Regions from separate parts of the Homo sapiens genome. Here region 1 is linked to region 2. A link means that fine-mapping ties the variant in region 2 to the expression of a gene that starts in the linked region. Tissue or cell type: hypothalamus. Region 2 holds a variant in brackets; the other region holds the start of a gene. All regions are shown on one strand. Distances are from middle to middle.

Region 1 (2,622 bases), 64 kb before region 2:
AGCACCGCCTCAACAATGCCCTAATCTAGAGAATTACATAGTTCTAAGCACAGCAAATCTCCTACAAACAGATCGGGATTCAAATATTTCATTCTACAGTCTTGGGATCCTCAATGCAAGGGACAGGCTGTAAGCAAGGGTCTGGACAGCCCGGCTTGCCCTCTTGTCTCTCTGTCATGCAGAGGAGCTGTAGTTCAGTTTTTGTTTTTTGTTTATTTTACGGAGCACATTTAAAGTATAGTCTTCCTTGTCAGGAGATTCCTGGCACTAAAGAGATGGACGGGAAACTTAACCGCCTCCTCCAGATCGTCCACTATTGCATCATTTGAAACCAAAGCCTTCTAAAGGCAGCGACTCGCACAATTCAAGTCAGGTAAGATGGCAGGAACAGCAGCTGTGGGTGCTGGCTGCTGCTGGAGCCTCGGTCTCAACTTCAAGAGCAGGGAGAGCGCTGTCTCTGGAGTTGCCAGGTGCTGAAATGAATAGTCAATAAATCAACAGGTCCGGCGCGCTAGCCCCTGGGTGCTCAGGCCCGGGCGCGCCACGACTGAAGGAGTGGCTAATTACTCAAACACAGTTGAAACCAAAGGAGGCCGGAGTCGGTTCTCAAAGTGGTTTCCCTCCGGCCACCACCGACTCTGAGGACCTGCTAGGGGAAGTGTCCCGGCCCCGTGGAGGGAGAGGGAAGCACCACAGCCTGGGCTGCGGCTCTAGCCCTCCAGCCCCAGCCCCTGGCAGCCCTGCCCTGCTGTCGCGGCAGGTACCCCTCTACTCATTGTTCCTCAGGCTGCCCCCTCTTTTCATCAATCGTAAGCCTTTCGGTTCTGCCACCAGGAAACTTCCATAGAAGGTGAGATTCCCAGGTCGAGGGATGATTCCACGAACACCCAGAGAGCCAGTGCCAGGACTTCAGGGTCAGACTTCGTAAAGCCCAGGCGTCGCTGGGCCGGCCCGGAACAGCTCAGAGCTGCGGGTCCTATGGTCCCGCGCCCTCACGCCCATCCAAGTGCTGGCAGGACGTGGGTCCTCCATCCCCACGACTCGCGGGGCCGGCGCTCCGAACCTCGGCACTGCGTCCGCTCCGCGCGCCGCAGGGACCCTCCTAGCTCCAGCGGGGACAGACCTACCAAGGCCGGGCGCCCCCACCCGGCGCCCGCCAGCCCACCCCAGAGAGGGGACCAAGGGGGCGGGGCCTCGGCCGTCCTAGCCGGGCTCACTCTTCTCTCCCGGACTCCTGTCCAGGGCTTCAGGGGCCGGGCCCGCAATCCCCATCGGATCGTACCTCGTCCGCTTCCAGCTCCGCTCGGCTGCCTAAGAGCGCCATATTCCTCCTCTGGCTGCTGCCACCCAAAAACCAAGCAGGGAACTCAGAGCCGACTCCTGCTCTCGGCTCTGGGCTCAGCCCAGCGCAAAGGAGGGCAAAAGGGGACGGCCCGGCGCTCCCTCCGGGTCTCGGGCGGGGCCTGAGTGCAGCTACTCGATTTCCCCGCCCCCGGAGCCGGCAGGCCAGCACAGCATCCATTTCCTCCCCGGACGCCGCGCCGCTGGCCGGGCCACTTGCCCGGCCCCCAGCGGGCGGCAGCCCCGCCCAAGTGGGTGGAGTCACCTCCCAGATAAAGTTTCCCGGTCTGGCACGCCCTCTGGGAGGGTTTCCTAAGCTTTCCTGCCGCCTGTTCTCTGCGGTGGCTGGGCACACCTGGAAAGAAGCTAGAGAGCGCGGGCATGACGAAGCCAAGGTCAAAGCAGCGCCCCACCTGGGGTCCGTGGAAGCATCCACCTGGTCTTTGGTCCGGTGCCAGTCCTTTTCCCTCGCCAGGTGGCCACCGCATCTCGCAGATGGTGTGGCCTGAGGGCAGCCTTGGGTCACGGTCACTGGTCCCCGAGAGGCCTCTGACACACCACCCACCTGGACTGTAGGTGGAAGGACTCTGCTTGCTTCTGTGTTCAAAAAATAGAAAAAAACGCGGGACAGAGATTTATACATATTGGAACTCCTCTACTTCCCCCTACCCGGACAGTGTATTCTCCCCATAGCATCCTGTATTTTGTAACTCCAAACATAGGTGTATAATTCGTGCTTGAACTATAAACTCCATGGGGGTAGGATGCTATCTGTCCTCTTCAAGACTGTATCCCCAACACCCAGAACAGTGTCTTGCACATCGTAGGTGCTCAACAGATATTTGTTGGCTGAGTTTAGAAACTGAACCTTGCTTCTGACATGTAAAATAACTGGAAAATTAAAAGCTAGATCTTTAAGAGTTTGGGGGAGAGAGGTCAGATTTACTTTACATACAGAAAAATGCACCAAGTTAAATGTGTGATTCAGTGACAAGTGTTTACAAAGCATCCCAGTCATAATATAGAACATCCTGAAAAGTTTTCTGTGACCCTTTGCTGTCAATTTCCTACCTCCGCTCCCTAGCCTCTGTCAATCACTGATCTGCTATCAACATCGATTTGCCTTCTCTAGAATTTCATATAAATTTAATTAGAGCATGTGGTCTTCCATGTCTGGCTCATGAAAGGCTATTTAATAGTCATCCAGTGATAACTGTAAAAACAGCTAATAGTTCTTGAGTCCTTACTATGTGCCAGGACTCTACTGAACCTCTTGCATAT
Region 2 (2,757 bases):
ATTCTAGCCTGGGTGATAGCACAACCCTGTCTCAAAAAAATAAAAATTAAATTAGATCAAATTAACCATCACATATGGTAAGTGTGTTTAACTGCCAAATTGTTTTCCAAAGCAGCTGTCCCCTTTTCATTCTCACCTCCAATGTATGAGTGTTCATGTGAGTGATTACTTATAAACATTCTTGTAGCCAAAACTCTTAGAGTATACATTCAATTTGCTATAGCATTGGGATATTTAAAAAAAGTCAATCTTGCTGTACAAAAGGGAAAATAATTTTCTCTCTATCCTTTGTAGTTCTTGGTTGGGACAGAGTGACAGACATCTGTAGCCAAAGACAGATTAACAAACAGGTTTATTAACATGTGTACATAGGAGATATCTGTTGAAATTGGTAAATCTCAAAGAGATGGCTTTAAATTTAGTCTTAAATACCATCGTGTGCTGAAACGAGAAAGAATGATATTGGGAAGGCTGGTTATGTGGAGATGCTCAGGAAAAACAAGGGTAAGGTTTGTTATGCAGATTTCAGCCAGTGCCTTCTCCATTTATACACATCTTAGTGACTTTGTCATCCATCTCTTCCTGGTACAGAGAAGGAGGCACTCTTACAAATGGAGATTCCCTTTATAGATATAAATTTCTCTTACAAAACGATAACTTCTAGTACTCTGTTTTCAGAATTTCTCCTGTGTCTGCAGTTTCTCAAAATAATCAGCTCAAAATAATCCTTATGCCAAAAAACCATTATTTTGGAGCAGCATATTCTGGTCCTCAGCACTGCCATCAGAAATTTGTTTGTAAACAAACATCCAGTATGAGTGTTTTGACTTTTAAGTGTTGACCTTAGGAGGAAGTACATTTATTGTAATGTAGCTTAAAAAGGGTAAGTAAGCTGTTTCATGTTACATCACTAATAAACTGGCTTACTAGCTAATATGTCTCATCCTTCAAAGGCTGGCAAGTATTTTAAAATCTAACCTACCTTACGCATGCCCTCAGCAGAAACCAATATCTTAATTAGAAACAACAAATCAAAAAACCTAAATGGTGTTAAAGAGCACCCGCTTCCCAGACATTTGTTCTTAATTTCCTCCCCAGTAGGAGACGTTAGCTCTTATTATTTTAAATTTGCTTTTATTTTTTTAAGAGATAGAAGTCACAGCTCAAGAAGAGAGAGAAAATTTGCCTTCCTCAATCCTTTTGTATGTTTGCTTTTAATGAAAAGTGAGGGGTTTATGTAAATCGGCTGTGACTCCTCAGGTACAAGTAGAGGCTAAG[G/A]ATAGCTACTCCTGTTCTTCAGTAGAAAGATGCTTAGCTCCATCTACACTCAGCTGGTCATCTCGTTACCATGGTAACACCATCCCTCCTCCTCACTCTCGGGAGCTTTGCCTGCCTCTGCTGATGGAAGGGCATTGCCACATTTGCATCAGAAATTAAATAATACTTTCCAGGACAGATCGTACACAAGGGCTGGGGTCACAGGGATCACCAGTATGGCCTTGATAGAGGTGAGCAGAATTAGTCCAATGGTTACAGTATTTCTCTTCAGCATCATTTCCCAAAAAAGAATAGAAAATTGATGACTCAGAACTTAGTAAGCTTGTTGATTAGCAGGGTACCAAGTGGGAGTATTCTCTCCAAAGTAACAACAAAGAGCGGGAGCTTTCGGCAGCAAGCCTGCCAGGTTTTCAGGACTGTTTCCCGCTGTGCCCCTCAGTGCATGGCCCCACACTGCCTCAGAAACCTTCTTACATTGTAGGCAGCTGCTTGTTCGGGATCTGTCTCTCTCTCTCTCTCTCTCTGGAGCCCACCTCCATCTTCTGCCTTCATTCTCGTCTGTTGGCCTGCATTTCTTCTTAGGCTTGTTTTACAGTGACTGCTTGCCCAGTGATCAGTTCGTCCTGCTGGTGGACTTTGCCCCAGGATCCTTCCCCTACCCCGACCCTATCACCGGAGGTGGTTGCTGCGGTGTCTGGGAAAGGAGTCCTGCCAATTCCTCTTCCTGGCACTCGTTCTCCTGGTTTCTCCCTTCCTCTTGTCCTCTTCCTCGTTCCCTACTCCCACACTTCCTTTTTCTTTCTCTCTCCTGTTTTTCCTTTGCTTCTCCTCTTCTCAACCTAAAATTTAGCACCCTCCAAAACACAGCCACACATATTTCACCCTACTGGTGACACTGTAAATCAAAAATACAATTCTAATGCCCCCCAAAACCATCTGAATGGACTTCCTCCTTGGCCAGGGTACATGTTCTCAGGATCTCATGAGGGCTGTGTCACAGGCCATGGTCACTCATATTTGGCTCAGAATAAATCCCTTAAGTAATTATTGTTGACTCTTTTTGTTGACAGTAATTTGGTGCCTCAGAGAAGACTCAGGACCCTGAAGGAGTTAGCCAAACTCGGAGCTAAGGTACTAGCAGGGAACCATTGAAGCCTCCCTGACTTCGAGCTTCTCCAACCAGTGGAGCTGACAAGTCCTCCTGAGCCCTGGACCTCCCTTTGGTCGACGGTCCTTAATTTGTTCTGAGCCGATTTTTTCCTCCGAGGAAGTTATTGTTTAGGATTGTTTTTTTTGAGACAGAGTCTCACTCTGTCGCCCAGGCTGGAGTGCAGTGGCACGATCTCAGCTCACTGCAAGCTCTGCCTCCTCCGGAGTTCATGCCATTCTCCTACCTCAGCCTCCTGAGTAGCTGGGACTACAGGCACGCACCACCACACCCAGCTAATTTTTGTATTTTTAGTACAGACGGGGTTTCAC

What was found. PIP is the estimated chance that this variant, and not a neighbour inherited with it, causes the effect.
Region 1: TTC39B starts here. The variant in region 2 is fine-mapped to the expression of TTC39B in hypothalamus (GTEx, PIP 0.97).

The regions. Positions count from the first base shown.
Region 1 is chr9:15,305,802-15,308,423 of GRCh38, forward strand. It overlaps TTC39B (tetratricopeptide repeat domain 39B), which reads right to left and starts at 1,415. Exons shown (of 20, transcript NM_152574.3): 1 at 1,283-1,415. The coding sequence starts at 1,324. RefSeq lists enhancers at 53-616, 1,180-1,742 and silencers at 980-1,299, 1,330-1,669.
Region 2 is chr9:15,369,299-15,372,055 of GRCh38, forward strand. No RefSeq gene overlaps it. Among named protein-coding and RNA genes, the nearest start is that of SNAPC3, 52 kb to the right of the region's middle. The variant G/A (reference allele first, on the strand shown) is at 1,279.